3 separate regions of the Homo sapiens genome follow, and regions 2 and 3 are each linked to region 1. The links come from fine-mapping of genetic effects on gene expression. A gene starts in region 1. Each other region holds a variant in brackets. All regions are shown on one strand. Distances are from middle to middle.

Evidence for each region. PIP is the estimated chance that this variant, and not a neighbour inherited with it, causes the effect.
Region 2: its variant is fine-mapped to the expression of IGF1R in whole blood (TOPMed, PIP above 0.99).
Region 3: its variant is fine-mapped to the expression of IGF1R in monocytes (TOPMed, PIP 0.94).

What each region holds. Positions count from the first base shown.
Region 1 is chr15:98,643,872-98,652,012 of GRCh38, forward strand. It overlaps IGF1R (insulin like growth factor 1 receptor), which reads left to right and starts at 4,668. Exons shown (of 21, transcript NM_000875.5): 1 at 4,668-5,804. The coding sequence starts at 5,711. It overlaps IRAIN (IGF1R antisense imprinted non-protein coding RNA), which reads right to left and starts at 6,916. Exons shown (of 1, transcript NR_126453.2): 1 at 1,992-6,916. RefSeq lists an enhancer at 2,770-3,391 and silencers at 3,403-3,452, 3,463-3,932, 3,993-4,052, 4,423-4,692.
Region 2 is chr15:98,954,203-98,962,384 of GRCh38, forward strand. IGF1R (insulin like growth factor 1 receptor) reads left to right here. Exons shown (of 21, transcript NM_000875.5): 21 at 2,859-8,182. The coding sequence ends at 3,240. Among named protein-coding and RNA genes, the nearest start is that of PGPEP1L, 49 kb to the right of the region's middle. The variant CCT/C (reference allele first, on the strand shown) is at 3,656.
Region 3 is chr15:98,541,473-98,549,654 of GRCh38, forward strand. No RefSeq gene overlaps it. Among named protein-coding and RNA genes, the nearest start is that of IGF1R, 100 kb to the right of the region's middle. The variant G/A (reference allele first, on the strand shown) is at 3,948.

The DNA.
Region 1 (8,141 bases):
CTCTCTGAAACCTCCACGTTGCTTTTAAAGCATCATGGAGAAATGTAGCATTTATGCCTTGGGAGCCAGCTATCTATGCAGAGCTAAAATAGAAAATCTTCTCAAGTTGAGTATAAACAGATCCTCAACAAGACTGAGACTCTTGTTGCTTGTGGCTGTGTGGGGATAGGAATCAGCTACAGCATCACTTGTATTTTTCCTGCCCTTGGGGTGCTCTGTGGAGACCATGTGATGCCTTCCACAGCTAATGCCCCTAAGGAAAGACCTTAGGCAGATACACACTGAAAGTATACACATCTGTAGACAGCTGTGGGCAAGGATGTTGGAGTTTAGCATCTCTACTAACTCACCTAATAGTAAAAACGGGAAGCATTGTGCTAACATTTTTTTTAGAACAGCTGCAACTATCTAAATTATAATACAATCTTAACAATTTAACATTCAGATACAATTATGCAGAATGAAGTGCACCCATCTTAAGTGTACAGTCTGATGTGTTTCTGCTAAATGCATATACTAGCATAGCCAACACCCCATCAAGATATAGAGCATTGCCATCACCCAAGAAAGTTCTTTATGCCTCTCCCTAGTCATTTGAAACTTTCCCTCTCTACCCACCCAGGGCAGCCATGATTCTGATTTCTAGCTCTAGATCAATCTTGCCTGTTTTTGAGCTTTACATAAATGAGCTAATACAGTATGTACTCTTTTGGCTTATACATTATGCTTTGGAGACTCATTTATGTTTTTGCATGGATTAGTAGTCCATTCCTTTTTACTGCTAAGCAGTATTGCATTGAATGGATATATCATGATTTGTTTATCCATTCTCCTTTTGATTTACATTTGGGTTGTTTTAGTTTTTGCTATTATGAACAAAGCACCTATTGACATTCCCATAGAAGTATTTTTGTGGAATTTTCATTTCTTTTGGGTAAATAACTAGGGCTAGACTTGCTGGATCGTAAGTTAGTTGTATGTTTTACCTTATAAGAAACTGTCAAACAGTTGACATAATGCACTCTTAATGAAGCTTATTACCTGTGAAGTGAGGTCTTTTAAATTTTTTGTCTTTTGATTTTTGTCTTAAATTGCATCGATATTAGATGTGTGGACATTCTTCTGAAATATCTTAAGGATCAGACCTTGATTAACTGTGTTATTTTAGTAGATCTTTAATGCTTCTGAGTTATTTATACGGACAGCTCGAAATCTGAACGACTCCCATTGGAAAACCAGAATGATCTCTTTCATGGATCTCTCCCATATTTTTATTTATCTTCTTTAATGTTTTATACATACAAAAATATGTAGAACATGTGTTAGTTATTAAGCATACTTATAAAATGGAAATTTGTAAATCCGTCACTCAATCCAAGAGTGAACTCATTTCCAAATTACAATGGAAACCCATGTGCCTATGGGCTTCTCATCCTCTCCAAAGGAATTCACATCCTTCATTAATTCTTTTGCTAAAACAAAAGCAAAACAAAGGAAAAATATTATTTTATTATTTAAAGCAAAAAAAATTTTCTGTAACTTTTAAAGTTTTCCTTGCTTTTTAAGAGCTTTATCAAAATGGTGTTACGCTGTGTGCGTTTTTGATATTTGTATATTTTTACTCAGTGTGTTTCAAAGATCTGCCCATGTTGTGTGGGGCTGTAGTTTATTCACTTTTGCTGCTAACATTCCTTTCTGCGAATACATCACAATATACTGTATTACTTGATACTTGTCAATTGTTGTGCTGTTTCTCACGTTTGCACTTGATGTATATGATATACATTACATTTTTTGGGGAGTCTGGTACATTTAGCAGAATAATTTGAGATGAAACTGTTATCAAGTAAACGGCGTTTTTAAAAAATGAAAACAAGCAATCAGTTTCTGCTCCAAAAGAGGGAGAACCTATAAGATACCTGAGTAAAATGGTATAAAATAAAAAGTTTGGTGCATTGTCAATGTGGGTATAAAGCAAAGACTCCAATTAATTTTTGTCTACATGATTTTATTTCAAGGTTGAAAAAATAAGTTTGACTTGTGTATGTAAAATATAATCATTGAAGAAATACAAATCACCTCCTTTGTCCATGTGGTCAAGTTAGAGCGTAAAGACAACCTAAATTTTTGTTCCTTTTTTTTCCCTAAATATTAAGCTATATAATGATACATCTCCCACTTCACTGTTTAAAATAACTTAATACGATTGATTTCCTACTACTTCAGGAAAACACAAACATTTAAAAAATTCACAAATAAAAATCATTTTAGTAAAAAAAAAACACACAAAAACAAATCCTACAACCCCTACAACAACCTATATACATTTAAAAATTCTATAGACCTCTTTATGTTCTTGGGGACAAATAAACAGGCATATTTATTACTAATACTAAAAATACATTGGGTAGTATTTGAAGATTTTATATTAGCACTAGCCTTTTAAAAATCAGCTCTAAATTTTTGTCTTACAAGTATGTATTAAAAATTCTGAAATCAAGTATAATGAAATTATATATCAATATTCCTTTGCATTTAACTCCAGAGTGGATCTGCAGGAATCAAGACCAACCTCATGCAGAGAACTTAAGAAATATTTAAAAATTAGTAGACTGGACTTTAATTCTTCATGTGTAGTGCCTAATTTTTAAATAATACATTTTAAGATTCTAATAAATTTATTTCACTGTTAAATCTAGGAACATCCAAAACTGAAACTCTTTATTTAAAAATCAAGCTGAATTTCAGTTAAACAAAACCATCCCATCATATGAATAACTTTCTTAGGTAAAACAAGGTTTATTTTCTTTCTATACAACTGACTCTGAATTGAGCTAGAAATTTCCAAGGAGGAAAATGATCTAGGAAACAACTTTAGAAAAAAAGGGCTAAGTTTCCGTTATGATAGCTTTTGACTTGTTTTCAGCTCTTAAAAAATTATTTACGAACGATGGATACACGTTCTAATGCAGAAGTATTTTAGAATTAGAGAGTAAAAGAAACCTACTACCTTCCTTTACATCAGGTCCCTTCTACCATCCTACCCGATTGTTTGAGACAACCACTTCTTATCTCGACAATTCACAACTCTTTTATTAGCTATCTTAAAAAAATTTATTACTGGCATCAATTAGCCTGAGTCATGAAACCGGACCACATTAAGGGCGACACATGGTCCAATCACTGTTTGTAAAAGTCCACGTATTTCAAACTCCTCTCTCCTGCCACTGCTGGGCTGTTTCCCTCTTTGAGGACCTGGTCTCCGCAGCATTTATTCATTAGATGGCAGTCCTAGGGGAGTCTCGCTTTGGGGAAACCTCTCCTCCTGCACATTCAAGAAAACAACCGCGGAGACTTAGGGTCGGTACTGGTTTCCAGTCACTTACGTAGCAAACGAAGCAAGAGGAACGTGCCTGGGAGGACCCGAGACAGGTGCGGGTGGGTTTCCGCAGTAGCCGCTGATCCCGAGTGCATGCGGCGTGTTCCCGGGTCGGGACCGCGGCCAAGGGAGGCTTCCCGGCCCCAGCCTCCACCCCCTCCTCGGCGCCCCGGGACCCGGACACGCCCCCCGAGCTTCGGAGACCCGCAGCGTGCACGCGCCCCGGCCGCTCCCCGCAGCCGCCCACGTGGTGGAGCCCTGAGCTGCGCGAGGCCGCGGAGAGCGCTCAGGGCGGGCGGCTGGTCCGGGAGGCCACGCCAGCGCGACCCAGCCGAGTCGGCCCCCAGCCCGGGCCCCCACATTTCCTCCCCCGGAGGGAGGGAGGCGACTCTCCGCGGGCTGCCCTCCCCAGCGCCCGCCGCGCCCTCTGGCGGCCGCCGCGGGGACGCGCCCGGGGCACGCGGCGCTGCCTGTCTGGGCCCCCCTTCCGGGGCGCGGGGCCCGCGAGGGGCGGCGGGGTCCTCTCTCCTCGAGCCACTCTGGGCCGAGCCACACGGGCCGCGCCCTTCCCCCTCCGCTCCCCCTGAGCCCCCAAACTCCGGGCTCCACGGTCGCAACGCCGCGGGCACCCCAGCCTGGCGTGAAAGTGCCCGGCGTAGTAGCCTGGGGGGGGGGTCCCCTTTCTCCCAGGTGCGCCCCTTCCGCCACGTTCGGGCTTTCCAGTACGCAGCGAAAAAAATGCCGCATGCACGCATTTATTTATTTTGCAACAGCTGCAAGAAACAATGAAGCTTTTCAAGAACCGGGGAAACGCGCTTTCCAGCCGCGCTGTTGTTGTTTTCAATGAACCTCTCCCAGCCCCGCACTCCCCGCCCACCCCTCCCCTCTCCTGCCCACCCCTCCCCTGCCTAGCCTTTCCCTGGCTACCCACCCCTGCCCCGCCGAGACCGGACCGGCGGCGGGGGCATTGTTTTTGGAGTCGGGCGGGAGGGGAGGGCGCGTGCGGGGTGGCCGGCGCAGTGCGGTGGGGGCGGGAGCGGGTGGGCACGCGCGCGTGTCTCTGTGTGCGCGCGGGAGGCGGTGGGGCGGGAGATGGGGGCGGCGCCTCGCAGTCTCGCGCCCCACGCCCGGGCTCCGCTCCGCACGTCTTGGGGAACCGGGCTCCGGTTTTTTGCGCGCGCCGGCCTGGGCCGGGCCCTCGGCGCGCCGCTGCTGCGGCGGTGGCCGCTCGAGTGTGCGAGCGGGCGCGTGTGCGCGGGCCAGGGCGCGCGCGCGCGCGCGAGCCCCCAGTGTGTGGCAGCGGCGGCGGCGGCGCGGCGAGGCTGGGGCTCTTGTTTACCAGCATTAACTCCGCTGAGCGGAAAAAAAAAGGGAAAAAACCCGAGGAGGAGCGAGCGCACCAGGCGAACTCGAGAGAGGCGGGAGAGCGAGAGGGACGCCGCCAGCGAGCCTGCCCACGGCCGGCGCTCGCAGACCCTCGGCCCCGCTCCCCGGATCCCCCCGCGCCCTCCACGCCCCTCCCGCGCGGGGGCAGCTCCACGGCGCGCCTCGCCTCGGCTGTGACCTTCAGCGAGCCGGAGCCCCCGCGCAGAGCAGGCGGCGGCGGGCGGGGGCCGGGCGGGGGCCGGCGCGGGGCGGGCGGCGGCGCAGAGCCGGGCGGCGCGGCGGGAGTGCTGAGCGCGGCGCGGCCGGCCCGCCGCTTTGTGTGTGTCCTGGATTTGGGAAGGAGCTCGCCGCGGCGGCGGCGGCGCTGAGGGAGGAGGCGGCGGCGAGCGGAGCCAGGAGGAGGAGGAGGAGGGGGAGCCGCTCATTCATTTTGACTCCGCGTTTCTGCCCCTCGCCGGCCTCGCCTGTGACCCGGACTTCGGGGCGATCTTGCGAACTGCGTCGCGCCCTCCCGCGGCGGAAGCTCGGGCGTCCGGCCGCCTCCCGCGCGGCCAGGGCCGGGCTTGTTTTTCCTCGCCTAGGCAGATTTGGGCTTTGCCCCCTTTCTTTGCAGTTTTCCCCCCTTCCTGCCTCTCCGGGTTTGAAAATGGAGGCCGACGACGCCGACAGCCCGCCCCGGCGCGCCTCGGGTTCCCGACTCCGCCGAGCCCTGGGCCGCTGCTGCCGGCGCTGAGGGGCCGCCCCGCGCCGCCCGCCCCGTCCGCGCACCCGGAGGGCCCCGGCGGCGCCGCCTTCGGAGTATTGTTTCCTTCGCCCTTGTTTTTGGAGGGGGAGCGAAGACTGAGTTTGAGACTTGTTTCCTTTCATTTCCTTTTTTTCTTTTCTTTTCTTTTTTTTTTTTTTTTTTTTTTTTGAGAAAGGGGAATTTCATCCCAAATAAAAGGAATGAAGTCTGGCTCCGGAGGAGGGTCCCCGACCTCGCTGTGGGGGCTCCTGTTTCTCTCCGCCGCGCTCTCGCTCTGGCCGACGAGTGGAGAAAGTGAGTATGTGCCCGCCGCCCGCGGCCACTGCGGGAACTTTTCCTCCGAGGGGCTGCGCCCTGTTTGCGAAACCCGAGTTGCCACCGTCGCAGCTGTCGGGCCCCCGGGCTCGGGAGCGGCGGGGTGGGGCGCAGGGCGGCTCTGCCGGGAGGGAGGCTGCAGCGGACCCGGGACCCGGGCTCGTTCGTCTGGAGCCCCGCGGGCCCTGGCTCCGCGCATCCCCGCGCGGGAAGGGCTTTTCTCTTTCTCCGTCCTGACAGCCCAGCCGTGTTTCCCGGCTAGGCGCGAGGACTCGGTAGGGAAGTTGGTGCCGGGGCGGGCTCCGCGGTTCCCGGGCCCCGCGACCCGCACCTCGCCCCTTCCATGCGCAAGAGCCTCTCCGCACACAGCGCTGATCCCCTGCGGCGCGCAGGCAGCAGCGACAGCACCCTGGGCCGCACCGCGTCTCCGCTGCTGGGGCTGACCGGGCAGTGGGGAGCGGGCAGCCGCCCGGCCCGCGGGGTGCGAGTTGCCCTCGAGGGGGGAGGTGCCCTGCGGAGAGGCCCCGAAGCCCCAGGACACGTCTCCAAGCGCCCGTCGCTGCCTCCCGTCGCCCAACGTGCTTTTGCCCCTCGGGCTCCTCGGGTTCCTGGCCTTGCCCGTCACTTTGGCCCGCTCCTCGTTGGGTTACCTGCCCCCGGCGTCCCGGGGCTGGGCGGTGGGGTGAGGGGAAGCGCTCTCTGGGCAGCCCCCCGGGAAGTGCGAGGCCGGGAGTCTTCCTCAGCTTGTCTCTTCCGGGGAGCGCCACTGGGTCCCCAGTTCAGAGGGCTCTGGGATGGTCTCCCAGTTTCTCCCGGGCCGGGGGATGGAGGGGTACTAGGGCCGCATCCGAGTGTGCGTTGGTGGGTGTGTGGTCGGAGCCGACGTGCATTCCGACACACGTGCTCGCAGCGCGGGGTGTAGTCGCCGCCTCACGGGGACACCTAGACGCCCGTCCCTGGCGAGAGGTGTCGTACGCTGTGGTTTCAGCGCCAGGGTCTGCGGCGGCGCGGGGAGGGTGTTGTGTTTTGCGAGCGCGGAGCCCTGGCCTTGGTTTTGTTGTGGTCGGCGTCGTGTCGCCCTCTCTTCTGCCGCCCCGCACTTCCTTTGTACGTAGTTAATAAGCAGTGTCGCTCCACATTCGCTGTCTTTTGCAATCTGATAGCTTTTGTTTTGGTGGTGTCGGGTGGGGGTTAGTAGGGAAGCGCGGGGATGCGGGGAGCGAGAACTCCCCCCGGTGTCTACGGCCGGAGGAGGTGGGGGTTTTATTCTTCTGAAAAAGTTGAAAGTGTGGCTTACTGGTACATTCAAGATGGTAGGGTAATTTGAACACGATTAAAAGTTTAAATGTCGCAGAACTGGGACTGGGAACGGTGAGGGCGTGTTGGTGAGTAATGGTTGCCGAGGGTATGCAGGTGGTGCCGATTAACTTTGAAAAAATCACGACTGAGCCTTCACGAGTGAGGCGGGGAAGGAGGAGGCAGCGGAGGTTGTATGGCCCCATCACCGGGGCAATTCAGAAAGGCTGTTTCTATAAACAAATCCTTAAACGTCTGGTAAGAAATGAGTCCGCGACGGAACGAGAGCAGATCGTGGTTCGCGTGTTTACTGCCGAGTGGGACGCGGACTGGGGCCGGACCTTCCACAGATCTGGGCTCTCCTGCTCTTTGTTTTCTAAACTTTCAGCGGACTCGATTGGGCGAAAGCCTTCCGGCTCCCTTTACTAAGTCGTTTAGGTGGTGGCTGGGGGGACAAAGGAGGGTTTTTATCTTTAAAAGATAAGTACGGTTTAGAAGACACGGGAGAAATAATCCATTTTGTTATGTTATGCAGTTGAACTGTATAGCTTCTCTAGTTTTGTGTTTTTAATGTTCTGAAATTCAAAACAGCAGGGATGGCCTTCGCCGACGCAGGAGTCGGGCATTTTAAAATAGGCTGTTTTTCTTTTGGAGCGTTCTTCTTGAAGGATATTCTTTGTGCAAGACGGCGATTTTTGAGAACACAGGCAGGAGGGAGGGGGTGTTTTAATGTATGTTTTTACTCCATGATACCAAAGCTTCCCCCCAGGATCCCTTTACAGTGGTTAGTTCCTGGAAACCTGATGGGTGGTCAGAAGGCACCCCAAATCTCGATTATGGTTTGCTGAAGTCTTGACTGACTCAGTACCTGCCCCTCCCTCCATCTCTGAAATGTGGAGAATTAAAAGCTATGCCTGTGAACGGGCGTTCAGTTTTTAGCCGGGAAGGTGCTAGACCACTTAACTCTGATAGAAATAAGCTGCTGAGCCCTATCAGGGAGGGCGTTCTTTCAGCTGTTGT
Region 2 (8,182 bases), 310 kb after region 1:
TGTGCTCACCCTGCTGACCGTCACCCAGCCTCCGGGGGGGGTCACAGCTGGCCCCCAGGAAGCTGCTTCCCAGCAGGGCAGGAATTCCATTTGAGTCTTGTCCCTGTTCCAGGAGAAGGGCTGGGTATGTGTCCCCCAAAGGGGAGAGCATTCGAGAAGGATGGCGCCAGCCTCCCCAGAACTGACCTGTGGTTAAAAAAAAAAAAAAAATTGTGCTTTTTAAAAGATGAGTTTTATCAGCTCACACATCCTTCTAGAGTCTAATGGAGATTTTTTGTGTGTGTGGAAATAGTAAACAAGGTCTTGAATCCCACAGAGCAAAAAAGACTTCCTTTCATGGGCAGCACTGGAAGGGTTGTTACTCTGGAATGGTTTAAAAGAGGCGTCACATGGCTTGTTTGTGCTGATGTCACTGCCTCGCTGCTCTCCTGTGGCACCTCCTCGGTCCCTGGCCACAGGGCACAGAGCCAAGCACATCTCATGCTCTTGGCCCAGTTACGCTTCTGCCCAGGGGTAAGTCAGCTGGAGAGGAATTCACAGCCCAGGCATTTCATGTCGTTATGGCCTATTTTAATTTTTTTAACCCCAATCATTTTTCTTAGGAAGTGATGGGGAGTTTGGAAAGGCAGGCTTATTTGTCATCAAGCTGCCAGCTTTTATCAATGCAAACCACATCCCTGTGACATCTGTGACTGTTCCTTGGACAGTTAGGTGAGGGAGGGTCTCCTGGTGGCCCCAGGGTTACTCTTATTTAGGTTGAGAAAAATTCCTTTTTCCAGGATCGTTGGTGATCAAAGTGTAGTCATTCTGTTGCGCAGAGAACTCCATCCCAGCTCCACCCTCATGAATTTTGTAATCTTGGACAAATTATTTAGTATCTTAGTGCTTCTGTTCCCTCATCTGTAACATGGGGGTATATTATAGTCAGTAGCACCTGCTTCACAAACTCGTGAGGACTTCAGCAGTTCACACACATAACTGCCTCGCTGCCTGGCACCTAGCGTGCACATGGCATTCTACCGTGGGGTAGACTTTTAAAATTCTGGCTACAGAGATACTTTTCCATAAAAGTGGCCACATGGAACTCTCCAAATCTAAGAAGCATACTGTGGGGGCCTTCATATTTTGTCTAATTCTTTTCTCCCCAGAACAGGAACCTGCACCCTTCCTTCTTTTAAAGGGCGACGTGGTAAATAAACATTTTTAGACTTGCAGGCCACAGTCTCTGTCCTAATGTCCTCAGCTGGTAGTTGTAGCTGGAAAGCAGCTGCAGCCCACATGGAAATGAGGGAGCGTGGCCCCATGCCAGTGCAGCTGATGTAGAGGCGGGCAGCCCCGGGTTAGGCCCTGTGGAGACGCAGGCCCCCGGGCTCTAGAACGCTGAATTCTAGTGAATTCTGGATGGCTCTCCCTCACACCCAGGCCCACCCTCCCTCAAGGTTGCACCTTCTCCACCTGAAGGAAGCTGCCAGGTGGCCATAGGAGCCCTTCTCTTGGCAGGCCAGCTTCCAGGCCCAGTGGCTTCTCTTACATCAGGGGCCTCCCCTTGGAATGTTCCCTGAAGGCCAGACACGGGCAGGTAGTCTGTGGTCAAGCAGCCACCCTGACAGGAGGCTAGATGCCACTGGGTGTGCTTTGAGTTTCCTAGATGTGGAGAGTTCTGTGTGGCCACTTTTATGGAAAAGCATCTCTTTAGCCAGAATTTTAAAATAAAGAGGATAACTTCCTGGTGAGAACAGACGTGGAAAGGAAGGCACTTTGGTTTCACGCTCATGTAAGAGAGGGCTGTTGGCGGTCACTCCTCAGAACTATGGCCAGCCCTGGATGGTAGCCAGCTGCTTTTTGCCCCAAAAGTCTGTTTAGCTGGGTCTCTGCATTCTGGAAGCTTGTCAAAGCCCGGGCCTTTCCTGGGTCAGGGCAGCCGGCTTTCCTTGTCCACGTGTGGCCGGCTGTTTTCTTGGGGAGCCCCGGCCACAGCCGGCAGGACTCCCTTTGCTCCATGTGACTCTGAGGGCCTCACAGGTATTTGCAGCCCAGGTGCTGTCGGAGCCCAGCCGATGCGACCGACACACAGCACAAGCGTCATCCTGTTCTGCCTGTCCCTTGCGTGTGGAGGGGACTCGTGCCCAGGGCTCTCCTTGCTGGCTTGTTGGAATCTGGCTTCAGGTCTACACGGGGCCTCTCGTTTGGTCCAGAACAGCCTGGCTCATCGGCTGGGGCTTGCTTGTGCAGGGCTGGAGCGAGCACGTGCTAGATGGAGACAGCAGACTCGGAGTGTGCATTTCTTCGTGTTGCAAGCCTGGCCTCACAGTGCCTTCTTCCTTTGGTTGTCTGCCAGGGGTAGCCCTGCACCAGGAGGAAGCTTAGAAATAGCACAGGTGGGAACCGGAGAGAGAGCACTGTTGGGGAAGCTGCGGTCACTCATCAGCCTTCCTGGTGAGAAACCAGGGGTTTCCTGCTAATTCTGGAAAGGATGTTTCAGCAGTGCCTGCATGAGACGCCTCAGATAGAAAACTGGTTATTTTTGTTTCTTAGCACTGCCACCATAGATAACAGCTGTCACGATGGACAGTGTGGACCTGGATTAGTCCTTCTTGGGAAAGGAGAGTTTGGGTTTTGTACCGTGGTGGTTCTGGGTTCTGGGGGAAGAGAATGGAACCGTACGAGGTAAAACAGGAGACTCTGAAGGCCACTTGGCCATCCAGGCAGAAAGCCAGGGATGGAGAGGGGCAGCAGGGCTGTGTTCAGTGCTCCCGCCGTACGCTTGTATGCGGGAAACCACTGCAGGCGGCCCATGAAGCCTCCTGGCCATGTGCGCCCTCCCGGTTTGGACCCCCTCCCGTGTGTCTTGGCTGCAGGTTTGAACTGATGCGCATGTGCTGGCAGTATAACCCCAAGATGAGGCCTTCCTTCCTGGAGATCATCAGCAGCATCAAAGAGGAGATGGAGCCTGGCTTCCGGGAGGTCTCCTTCTACTACAGCGAGGAGAACAAGCTGCCCGAGCCGGAGGAGCTGGACCTGGAGCCAGAGAACATGGAGAGCGTCCCCCTGGACCCCTCGGCCTCCTCGTCCTCCCTGCCACTGCCCGACAGACACTCAGGACACAAGGCCGAGAACGGCCCCGGCCCTGGGGTGCTGGTCCTCCGCGCCAGCTTCGACGAGAGACAGCCTTACGCCCACATGAACGGGGGCCGCAAGAACGAGCGGGCCTTGCCGCTGCCCCAGTCTTCGACCTGCTGATCCTTGGATCCTGAATCTGTGCAAACAGTAACGTGTGCGCACGCGCAGCGGGGTGGGGGGGGAGAGAGAGTTTTAACAATCCATTCACAAGCCTCCTGTACCTCAGTGGATCTTCAGAACTGCCCTTGCTGCCCGCGGGAGACAGCTTCTCTGCAGTAAAACACATTTGGGATGTTCCTTTTTTCAATATGCAAGCAGCTTTTTATTCCCTGCCCAAACCCTTAACTGACATGGGCCTTTAAGAACCTTAATGACAACACTTAATAGCAACAGAGCACTTGAGAACCAGTCTCCTCACTCTGTCCCTGTCCTTCCCTGTTCTCCCTTTCTCTCTCCTCTCTGCTTCATAACGGAAAAATAATTGCCACAAGTCCAGCTGGGAAGCCCTTTTTATCAGTTTGAGGAAGTGGCTGTC[CCT/C]GTGGCCCCATCCAACCACTGTACACACCCGCCTGACACCGTGGGTCATTACAAAAAAACACGTGGAGATGGAAATTTTTACCTTTATCTTTCACCTTTCTAGGGACATGAAATTTACAAAGGGCCATCGTTCATCCAAGGCTGTTACCATTTTAACGCTGCCTAATTTTGCCAAAATCCTGAACTTTCTCCCTCATCGGCCCGGCGCTGATTCCTCGTGTCCGGAGGCATGGGTGAGCATGGCAGCTGGTTGCTCCATTTGAGAGACACGCTGGCGACACACTCCGTCCATCCGACTGCCCCTGCTGTGCTGCTCAAGGCCACAGGCACACAGGTCTCATTGCTTCTGACTAGATTATTATTTGGGGGAACTGGACACAATAGGTCTTTCTCTCAGTGAAGGTGGGGAGAAGCTGAACCGGCTTCCCTGCCCTGCCTCCCCAGCCCCCTGCCCAACCCCCAAGAATCTGGTGGCCATGGGCCCCGAAGCAGCCTGGCGGACAGGCTTGGAGTCAAGGGGCCCCATGCCTGCTTCTCTCCCAGCCCCAGCTCCCCCGCCCGCCCCCAAGGACACAGATGGGAAGGGGTTTCCAGGGACTCAGCCCCACTGTTGATGCAGGTTTGCAAGGAAAGAAATTCAAACACCACAACAGCAGTAAGAAGAAAAGCAGTCAATGGATTCAAGCATTCTAAGCTTTGTTGACATTTTCTCTGTTCCTAGGACTTCTTCATGGGTCTTACAGTTCTATGTTAGACCATGAAACATTTGCATACACATCGTCTTTAATGTCACTTTTATAACTTTTTTACGGTTCAGATATTCATCTATACGTCTGTACAGAAAAAAAAAAGCTGCTATTTTTTTTGTTCTTGATCTTTGTGGATTTAATCTATGAAAACCTTCAGGTCCACCCTCTCCCCTTTCTGCTCACTCCAAGAAACTTCTTATGCTTTGTACTAGAGTGCGTGACTTTCTTCCTCTTTTCCCGGTAATGGATACTTCTATCACATAATTTGCCATGAACTGTTGGATGCCTTTTTATAAATACATCCCCCATCCCTGCTCCCACCTGCCCCTTTAGTTGTTTTCTAACCCGTAGGCTCTCTGGGCACGAGGCAGAAAGCAGGCCGGGCACCCATCCTGAGAGGGCCGCGCTCCTCTCCCCAGCCTGCCCTCACAGCATTGGAGCCTGTTACAGTGCAAGACATGATACAAACTCAGGTCAGAAAAACAAAGGTTAAATATTTCACACGTCTTTGTTCAGTGTTTCCACTCACCGTGGTTGAGAAGCCTCACCCTCTCTTTCCCTTGCCTTTGCTTAGGTTGTGACACACATATATATATATTTTTTTAATTCTTGGGTACAACAGCAGTGTTAACCGCAGACACTAGGCATTTGGATTACTATTTTTCTTAATGGCTATTTAATCCTTCCATCCCACGAAAAACAGCTGCTGAGTCCAAGGGAGCAGCAGAGCGTGGTCCGGCAGGGCCTGTTGTGGCCCTCGCCACCCCCCTCACCGGACCGACTGACCTGTCTTTGGAACCAGAACATCCCAAGGGAACTCCTTCGCACTGGCGTTGAGTGGGACCCCGGGATCCAGGCTGGCCCAGGGCGGCACCCTCAGGGCTGTGCCCGCTGGAGTGCTAGGTGGAGGCAGCACAGACGCCACGGTGGCCCAAGAGCCCCTTTGCTTCTTGCTGGGGGACCAGGGCTGTGGTGCTGGCCCACTTTCCCTCGGCCAGGAATCCAGGTCCTTGGGGCCCAGGGGTCTTGTCTTGTTTCATTTTTAGCACTTCTCACCAGAGAGATGACAGCACAAGAGTTGCTTCTGGGATAGAAATGTTTAGGAGTAAGAACAAAGCTGGGATACGGTGATTGCTAGTTGTGACTGAAGATTCAACACAGAAAAGAAAGTTTATACGGCTTTTTTGCTGGTCAGCAGTTTGTCCCACTGCTTTCTCTAGTCTCTATCCCATAGCGTGTTCCCTTTAAAAAAAAAAAAAAGGTATTATATGTAGGAGTTTTCTTTTAATTTATTTTGTGATAAATTACCAGTTTCAATCACTGTAGAAAAGCCCCATTATGAATTTAAATTTCAAGGAAAGGGTGTGTGTGTGTGTATGTGTGGGGTGTGTGTGTGTGAGAGTGATGGGACAGTTCTTGATTTTTTGGGTTTTTTTTCCCCCAAACATTTATCTACCTCACTCTTATTTTTTATATGTGTATATAGACAAAAGAATACATCTCACCTTTCTCAGCACCTGACAATAGGCCGTTGATACTGGTAACCTCATCCACGCCACAGGCGCCACACCCAGGTGATGCAGGGGGAAGCCAGGCTGTATTCCGGGGTCAAAGCAACACTAACTCACCTCTCTGCTCATTTCAGACAGCTTGCCTTTTTCTGAGATGTCCTGTTTTGTGTTGCTTTTTTTGTTTTGTTTTCTATCTTGGTTTCCACCAAGGTGTTAGATTTCTCCTCCTCCTAGCCAGGTGGCCCTGTGAGGCCAACGAGGGCACCAGAGCACACCTGGGGGAGCCACCAGGCTGTCCCTGGCTGGTTGTCTTTGGAACAAACTGCTTCTGTGCAGATGGAATGACCAACACATTTCGTCCTTAAGAGAGCAGTGGTTCCTCAGGTTCTGAGGAGAGGAAGGTGTCCAGGCAGCACCATCTCTGTGCGAATCCCCAGGGTAAAGGCGTGGGGCATTGGGTTTGCTCCCCTTGCTGCTGCTCCATCCCTGCAGGAGGCTCGCGCTGAGGCAGGACCGTGCGGCCATGGCTGCTGCATTCATTGAGCACAAAGGTGCAGCTGCAGCAGCAGCTGGAGAGCAAGAGTCACCCAGCCTGTGCGCCAGAATGCAGAGGCTCCTGACCTCACAGCCAGTCCCTGATAGAACACACGCAGGAGCAGAGTCCCCTCCCCCTCCAGGCTGCCCTCTCAACTTCTCCCTCACCTCCTTCCCTAGGGGTAGACAGAGATGTACCAAACCTTCCGGCTGGAAAGCCCAGTGGCCGGCGCCGAGGCTCGTGGCGTCACGCCCCCCCCGCCAGGGCTGTACCTCCGTCTCCCTGGTCCTGCTGCTCACAGGACAGACGGCTCGCTCCCCTCTTCCAGCAGCTGCTCTTACAGGCACTGATGATTTCGCTGGGAAGTGTGGCGGGCAGCTTTGCCTAAGCGTGGATGGCTCCTCGGCAATTCCAGCCTAAGTGAAGGCGCTCAGGAGCCTCCTGCTGGAACGCGACCCATCTCTCCCAGGACCCCGGGGATCTTAAGGTCATTGAGAAATACTGTTGGATCAGGGTTTTGTTCTTCCACACTGTAGGTGACCCCTTGGAATAACGGCCTCTCCTCTCGTGCACATACCTACCGGTTTCCACAACTGGATTTCTACAGATCATTCAGCTGGTTATAAGGGTTTTGTTTAAACTGTCCGAGTTACTGATGTCATTTTGTTTTTGTTTTATGTAGGTAGCTTTTAAGTAGAAAACACTAACAGTGTAGTGCCCATCATAGCAAATGCTTCAGAAACACCTCAATAAAAGAGAAAACTTGGCTTGTGTGATGGTGCAGTCACTTTACTGGACCAACCCACCCACCTTGACTATACCAAGGCATCATCTATCCACAGTTCTAGCCTAACTTCATGCTGATTTCTCTGCCTCTTGATTTTTCTCTGTGTGTTCCAAATAATCTTAAGCTGAGTTGTGGCATTTTCCATGCAACCTCCTTCTGCCAGCAGCTCACACTGCTTGAAGTCATATGAACCACTGAGGCACATCATGGAATTGATGTGAGCATTAAGACGTTCTCCCACACAGCCCTTCCCTGAGGCAGCAGGAGCTGGTGTGTACTGGAGACACTGTTGAACTTGATCAAGACCCAGACCACCCCAGGTCTCCTTCGTGGGATGTCATGACGTTTGACATACCTTTGGAACGAGCCTCCTCCTTGGAAGATGGAAGACCGTGTTCGTGGCCGACCTGGCCTCTCCTGGCCTGTTTCTTAAGATGCGGAGTCACATTTCAATGGTACGAAAAGTGGCTTCGTAAAATAGAAGAGCAGTCACTGTGGAACTACCAAATGGCGAGATGCTCGGTGCACATTGGGGTGCTTTGGGATAAAAGATTTATGAGCCAACTATTCTCTGGCACCAGATTCTAGGCCAGTTTGTTCCACTGAAGCTTTTCCCACAGCAGTCCACCTCTGCAGGCTGGCAGCCGAATGGCTTGCCAGTGGCTCTGTGGCAAGATCACACTGAGATCGATGGGTGAGAAGGCTAGGATGCTTGTCTAGTGTTCTTAGCTGTCACGTTGGCTCCTTCCAGGGTGGCCAGACGGTGTTGGCCACTCCCTTCTAAAACACAGGCGCCCTCCTGGTGACAGTGACCCGCCGTGGTATGCCTTGGCCCATTCCAGCAGTCCCAGTTATGCATTTCAAGTTTGGGGTTTGTTCTTTTCGTTAATGTTCCTCTGTGTTGTCAGCTGTCTTCATTTCCTGGGCTAAGCAGCATTGGGAG
Region 3 (8,182 bases), 100 kb before region 1:
GTCTGCTCCATCCTCCAGATCTTTAATCTGAGTTCCATCCCTCATTCTGTCAAAACTCCACAAGGAGTTCCAAGTTTGGGGTTGGTGATTCCTGAGAAAATCGGTTACAGCTGATTTGCAGGTTTAGCATGGCTATTTGTGCAGTCTAAACGTCCAAGCCAGATTTCTACAAGACAGTAAGATTACACCACAACGGCGGGAGCACACGTATATGTCTCTCCTATTTCTGATGTTATGTTGTAAATATTTAAAATAAAGCAATCCAGCCGGGCGCGGTGTCTCATGCCTGTAATCCCAGCCCTTTGGGAGGCCGAGACGAGTGGATCACTTGAGGGCAGGAATTCGAGACCAGCCTGGCCAACATGATGAAATCCCGTCTCTATTAAAAATACAAAAATTCGTCAGGCGTGGTGGAGTGCACCCTGTAGTCCCAGCTACTCAGGAGGCTTGCTTGAGAATTGCTGGAGCCCGGGAAGTGGAGGTTGCAGTGAGCAGAGATCGCGCCACTGCACTCCAGCCTAGGCAACAGAGAGAGATTCCGTCTCAAAAAAAACAAAAATAAAAATAAATAAATAAATATCTAAAAATAAAAATAAAATAAAGCAATCCTTATGATGTTTTAAAAGACTATGAAAGGTGTATTTACAGGGTAGTTCCTGCCGTGTTTTCTGAGCCGGTATCGCAGGGAAGGCTCTGCGTCAGACCTCAGGGCCCCCTTGCTACTAGGAGAACCAGCAAAGTCCCCGTGGGCTGGGTCTTCCCCGGCATGCTCAAGCCACTCACCTTCATATTCTGTGCCCTGGCCACGCAGGTCTGTTGATTTCTTGCCTTCACCTCTGCTCTGCTAGATACTGTTCACGCTGTTGTCTCCCTTCCCTCACTACCTGACAAGTTGACTTCTGTCCACACCTCAGGTCCCAGCTGAAGAGCCTCTCTTCACACAAAGCACACCTGTGGTTGCCAGGGCCTGGGGTGGGGGTCCTGGAAAATGACTGCTCAGCGGGACAGAATTTCTTTCTGGGTTGATAAAAATGTTCTGAAATTAGATAGTACTGATGGTTATAAAACTCTGTGAACTGCAAAACTTTAAGAGGTGAATTTTATAGTATGTAAATAATACTAAATCATTCTTTAAAAATCCCTTCTTAACCGGATGCAATGGCTCACACCTGTGGTCTTAGCTACTTAGGAGGCCGTGGTCGGAGGATTGCTTGAGGCCAGGAGTTCAAGATCAGCCTGGGCAACATAGTAAGATCTCCCATCTCTACCAAAAAAAAAAACCATTAAATTAAATTAGCTGGGCATTAGTGGCATGCACCTATAGTCCCAGCTACTCAGGAGGCTGAAGTGGGAGGATCACCTGAGCCCAGGAGTTTGAGGCTGCAGAGAGCTATGATTGCACCACTGCACTCCAGCCTAGGTGACAGAGCCCTGTTTAAAAAAAAAAAAAAAAAAAATCCCTTCTTCAAGGAAGTCCTCCTAGGTGCACCTGGACCCTCTACCTCAGAGGACCCTGTGACATCCATTACAGCAGATACCACAATTATAGAGAGTAATGGTGTTACTGGTTACTAAATGCAGTAGGATACTGAGAGCATGGTAGGAGGGGTACACTGGCAATAATTTAAAAACAAGAATAAAACAAACCAAAAATTGATCTTCTCTTTACCATGCCATGCCCTGGCAGTTCTAAATAACATCAGTGATAAAAGTCACCTCCCCTCCTCAAATATTCTTTGGTTTAAGTTCTAAACAATTGCAGGGACTACTGTTGAGTTTGAGTGATATGCATGTAAGCTTCAAATTAACACATTCTAATTACTTATCCTTTAATAAGCATTATCATTCTACATGTAACTTAATTCAGAAAATTCCTAATTACAGCCAGTCCTCCACAGATGAACCCAAGCAATAGGGTTTGTTTGTTTGTTTTTGAGATGTTTGTTACTATAACAATGTGGAGTGGCTCAGCTAGCATTTCCCGCCCTGTGATACTATTTATGCCTGCTGCCTTTAAAGTGTAGAATCAAAGTAAACACTGATAGCACACTGATAATGGAGAAAGAAAACAGAATTTGATGTAGCTCAATTCTCTCACTCTATGTAACTGTGTGAGTTTTGATTTGTGTTTTAAAATTTGAAACAGTGAAACAGTGAGAAGTACAAGGTGTAATATTTTTGTTTGATGAATGCAAATTTTAGTCCATGCATAAAATATTTGACTAAATTTGACACTTAAGTTTATTCTTTTCTTCTAATTGTTGTTGGTTTTAAACTAAAGGACAAGGCCGGGCACAGTGGCTCACTCCTGTAATCCCAGCACTTTGGGAGGCCAAGGCAGGCGGATCATGAGGTCAGGAGATTGCGACCACCCTGGCTAACACAGTGAAACCCCATCTCTATTAAGAAATACAAAAAATTAGCCGGATGTGGTGGTGGGCGCCTGTAATCCCAGCTACTCAGGAGGCTGAGGCAGTAGAATGGTGTGAACCTGGGAGGCAAAGCTTGCAGTGAGCAGAGATAGTGCCACTGCACTCCAGCCTGGGCAACAGAGCGAGACTCTGTCTCAAAACAAAACAAAACAAAACAAAACAAAACTAAAGGACAAATTTTAAAAAATTGTTACATTAGTAATTGACTAAACTCTACCTTTTACACAATTTGGTTTTATTAAAATTCACTTACTAGTTACTGAACACTTACATAAAATAATATTACATGAGACTGTAACCAAAATATCAACGTTTAATCTTTAGTAAATATAAAACTGATTGAATAGCTGGATTGAGTTTTTTCCCTTTTTTTGCATGATAACTTATTTTTATTCATTTTATTGACAAGATTATGTAAAGATTCAATATAAGGAAATTTCCAGTGTTTGCATTTATTTTCTATTTTTGTTATTAATTTTGTTATGATTATTGCTAAAAAATAATTTAAGCATATAGAGATTATTTTCTAACACTCCCTTTATTAAACTGTAATATTCATGAAGAATATATTAATGAGCTACAAACATGCTTTACATTTCTAAATATTCTTAATGTATATCAAATACATAATAAGTACGTATATTTTGAAGAATATTCATATTCATTTAAAATATCTAAAAACTGGTTTAATGCAAGGCTTTGGTAAATTGCTAAGTTTGGTGAATTGTTTGGTGATTTAGCCATTCAGTGATTTGTTTTTTGCCCCGTGAGACAGATAGTTTTATCATTACTTCCAAGGGAAAACTGAGGTATAAGGTATGTAAACTATTTGTCCATGGTCAGAAAACCAGTAAGAAGAGCTATGATCTCAATCAAGATCTTCTGATTCTAGCCATTATACTATATTGCTTCCTCACATACCTCCCATTAAAACTAAAGTTGACCATGAAATACCATCCAGCTATAACTTCACCAGAAATGCTGCCTCGGTGAGAATGAATAGCCACATGGGACTACAGACCCCCGTCTACACACCTATGAGTCCAGCTCCCACTTCAGCCTAGTCATCAAGAATTAGAGATCACACGGAGGCAACCCATCAAATGCCCATCAAGTGTCCAAAGTGGTTCACTGGGTCCATGTTCTGAGCCAGGTTTTTGATCATGTTAGGTTCATTCCTGCCTCAGGGCCTTTGCACACACAGTTTTTGTTGTTGTTGTTGTTGTTTTGGTTGTTTTTGTTTTTGAGATGGAATCTTGCTCTGTCACCCAGGCTGGAGTGCAGTGGCATGATCTCGGCTCACTGCAACCTCTGCCTCCTGGGTTCAAGTGATTCTCCTGCCTCAGCCTCCTGAGTAGCTGGGACTACAGGAACACGCCACCATGCCTGGCTAATTTTTGTATTTTTAGTAGAGACAGGGTTTCACCTTATTGGCCAGGCTGGTCTGAAACTCCTGACCTTGTGATCTGCCCACCTGGGCGTCCCAAAGTGCTGGGATTATAGGTGTGAACCACC[G/A]CACCCGGCCTGTTTTGTTGTTTTGTTTGGGCCTGGCTTTCCCCTCTGGCTTTTGAAATAACTCTTCCTCATGTTACCTCCTCAGAGAGGCTTTCCTTGACTACAATATCTAAAGTTACTCCTCCCAACCACTAACCATTGTCCTAGTGCTTTGTATTATTTCTATGCACCATTCATCCATCTATATTTCTTTCTTTCTCTTTTCTTCTATGTTATCAGCGACTTGTATAGAATAGATTCCTAATAAGTATTTATTAAGTTATTGAAAGAATGAGGCCAGGCACAGTGGTTCATGCCTGTAATCCCAGCAATTTGGGAGGCTGAGGCAGGCAGATCTCTTGATGCCAGGAGTTGGGATATCAGCCTGGGCAACGTGGCGAAACCCTGTCTCTACCAAAAAATACACAAATTAGCTGGGTGTGATGGTGTACGCCTGTAGTCCAGCTACTAGGGAGGCTGAGGTGGGAGAATCACTTGACCTCAGGAGGCGGAGGTTGCAGTGAGCTACAGTGGTGCCACTGTACTCCAGCCTGGATGACAGAGAGAGACCCTGTCTAAAAAAAAAAGGAAGAAAAGCATGAAGAGATTAATCACAGTGCTAAGGACTCCTCTGAGGTCACATCCAGGCTCAGTGGGGCAGAGCACTGAGAAATGAGCCTGTGCTGTCATACGTAGGATGTGGGGAGGCCTGGCTCACCAGCACCTGAGAACCCTGACTTCCATATTATCCATAACGGGGGTACAGGCTAGGGCTTTCCCCCATCAGCACCCAGCAACACACTACCATCTATCCATTCACAGGTGGGAGTCTCCAGGAGGGGAAGCAGGTAAGGCACAGGCAGGGCCCTGCGCAGGTGGAGACTGGTTTTGTGTCTGGGGTTTGTTCCTTCTGGTGGGTTCCTGGTCTCGCTGCCTTCAAGAATGGAACCGCAGACCTTCACAGTGAGTGTCACAGCCCTTACAGATGGCACAGACCCAAACAGTGAGCAGCCGCAAGACTTAATGTGAAGAGCAAAAGAACAGATATCCCACAACATGCAACGGGACCCAAGCAGGTTGCCTCTGCTGGCTGGGGGGTAGCCAGCTTTTATTCCCTTATCTGTCCCCGCCCATGTCCTGCTGATTGGTCCATTTTACAGAGTGCTGATTGGTCCATTTTACAAACCTCTAGCTACAGAGCGCCTATTGGTGCATTTTTACAGAGCACTGATCGGTGCATTTTACAAACCTCTAGCTAGCTACAGAGCGCCCATTGGTGCGTTTTACAATCCTCTTGTAAGATATAAAAGTTCTCCAAGTTGCCACCCGACCCAGAAGTCCGGCTGGCTTCACCTCTCAGTTTCGTGTTCTACTCCAATACCATCTGTACACCTTCATGCGGGGATTAGGGATTTGACAGGTGAATAGGTTACTCAATAGCGTTCAGAGTTCATAAACCAAGACTCTACCTGCTTCCCACAGCCTGCGTTCATGGGAAAGAGGCAAGAAAATAAAACCAGCCTCAGCTATATCGAATCCTTTCCTTCCCCTCCCAAGTCATTAACAAAGACTGACACTGTAGTATTTATCAAAAAATCTTGTTCCCTAAGTGGTGATACAGAATAATTATCTCAGCATGCAATCAGCTCAGCGATCTTCTTCAAAGCAATTTGTGGCAAGGATATGCAGTTTTTAAATAGATTAAATTTTCAAGAGCTTGCCTCTGAAACCTGGTCAGAATGTATTTACAACTCACCTGGTGAGATGATGCGTATCTTAAGCTGGAATTCTCTTTCGTTAGGTCTTGCTTAATTGAATCAAGCAAAGTCATTTTGGGATCGTCCCAAAAGAAACCCTTTTATCTCAAGGCAAATGTGTTTTAACAAGGCCCTAAGGTGAATAAAAGCTAGGTTTCCACTCACCGGAGCTCTCTGCTCCTCCTTTCAAAAGCCTACCACTCTACTTCATTTGTTTTTCTTTTAAGTGAGGAAATTGCTTATGGAGTTAACTGTTGCCAGTGAAAGCAACAAGTTGCCTCTCCCCTCCTCTACTCTTAAGAAACACCTTGTTTCCCTCCCTCTCTTCCTTCCTTCTTTTAAAATAAATAAGTTATGCATAGCTGGAGCGTGCATGCAATGCTCAGGCGTGGTCCTGGTATAGCCAATAGCGTCATATTCAGCCCTGTTTAATTCCCACTGTCTTGGGTCTAGAATTTAGGCTTTTGAGAAATCTTTATTGAATTAATGAAAACTCAAAGACCACGATTCTGCATTCCCCCAAATCCTGAAGTGCAGTAGGAGCCCATGCAGGGCTTGGGACGGGCTTTTTGCCTCAGCAGCCAGGACAGCCTCTGCATCCGTGACCACCTCCCCGCCCCCCTCGCATTCCCCCCCATCCCCTGGTGATATCCTTCTAGCGCAGGCTCGTGCTCTGGAGGCGGGGTGGGGCCGGGATTCTGCAGCTGTAACCAACTCCCCCGCTGGGGGCATGGGGCTGGTCCCTGGGGCGCACAGAGAAGTTGTGACAGATAATTGACGTGATCGGGAGGGGCGTCCAGGCAGACCTCATGTGACTTCTAAAACCAACCCACAAATCTGAAGCGTGGCTTGCGTGGTCAGCCGCCTGCCTGGCACCCGGTGAACAGTTTCTCCCGGACTCTCTGCATCTAGCCCCAAAGAATCTAAGATTCTTTGTCTAGAAAAGTGCCCTGGTCTTCCCTGGCACCCTTCGCGGTGGGTTTCCTTGACTCCGCATAAACTCCCGTTCCAGCCCAAATCAGAGGCGGTCGCAGCAGCCGTTCCTCGTCTCCATCAGCATCCGCGTTGCCATTTCCCCGTCCTGAGCTGTTGCTCATATCAAATGTCACTCGGGGATGACTAAGAGCCGATGTTGATGAGGAGCCTTCAGCGTTACGGTAAAGGAGCTCGTGCAAACTTAGACCCCAGTCATCTGACGGTCACGTGGGCGGGCGTCGCGGCCCAGGCCCCCGCCTCCTCCGTCCTCCGCGATTCGGACATGACACGGTCCTCCGCGAAGGGCAGGCGTTACATAAACCCGGCGAGCTCACACCGTGCGGCGGGGAGCAGCGCGAACGCTCGACCCGGACACCTCCCTTCCAGGTCCCGTTCCGTAGGCGGGGCCGCTCCCGAGGCACAAGGAGGCCTGCGCGGCGCCCGAGGTGTCCGGATCCCAAAACAGGACCCCAGGAGTTTCTCACACTCAGGACTGGCCCCTAGTTGTCAATCCAGAAAAGGCATCCTCCGTCCTAGATCCAGCCTGTATTTCACGGAAAGCGTTTCCTCCCCCATCCCCAAAGCCGGCAGGGGTGGGGCGGAGAGGGGAGGCCCGGGGAGACTGACTCTATTATATAAACTTGTAATTGGCTCCGGTTCCTGCGGCTCGGGCGGCACTGCAGGACGTTTCCAACCAGATGGGTTGTGAGGCCCCGCGGCTTCCTCCTCTTCTTCCCTCCCCCTCCGCGCCCGTCCCCTGGCCAGCCAAGCCCCACCCTTCTGCCTTCCCAAGGCTACCAGAATTTCCCTGTCTTTCCAGTCCTCCCCTGCACAGGAGATGGCACCCAGAAAAGAAATGCATGATGATTTGAAAATGGTATTCCATTGTTAAACGAATGTATTCCCAGTCTGCTAGTCCTGGCTCCAGCTGACTCTTAGAATCAATCACCTCAGTAACTCAAATGTTCCAAGCTGGGAATCAGTCATCTCAGACCGGCATTCTCAAATGAGCTGGGCGTAGGGGGGTTGTCAAAACTCAGAGCGCTGAGCCCGACGCCCAGAATTATGTTCGATCGCTCTAGATTGGGCCCCAGAAATGTGTATTTCTTTCTTTCTTTTTAGAGGCAGGGTCTCCTTCTGTCGCCCAGGCTGGAGTCCAGTGGTGGAGTCATGGCTCACTGCAGCCTCCACCTCCTGGGCTCAAGCCATCCTCCTGCCTCGGCCTCCCTCATTATAGACATGAGCCACCACACCCAGCGAGGAAGGTGCATTTCTACAAGTTATCAAGTGATGCTGATGCTGTGGAATAGTATACACAGGAGCAGGGTGGTGGTTTATATAATTCTCCTTCCATTAAAAAGGTTTGCAAAACAAATTAATAGTGTGAACAGAATGTCAGGAAGACCAGCCTCCTCTCAGGGATTCTCTGGCAGTTTAGAAGTGAGAGGTGACAGCGTGCTGGCAGCCCTCACAGCCCTTGCTCGCTCTCGGCGCCTCCTCGGCCTTGGTGCCCACTCTGGCCAC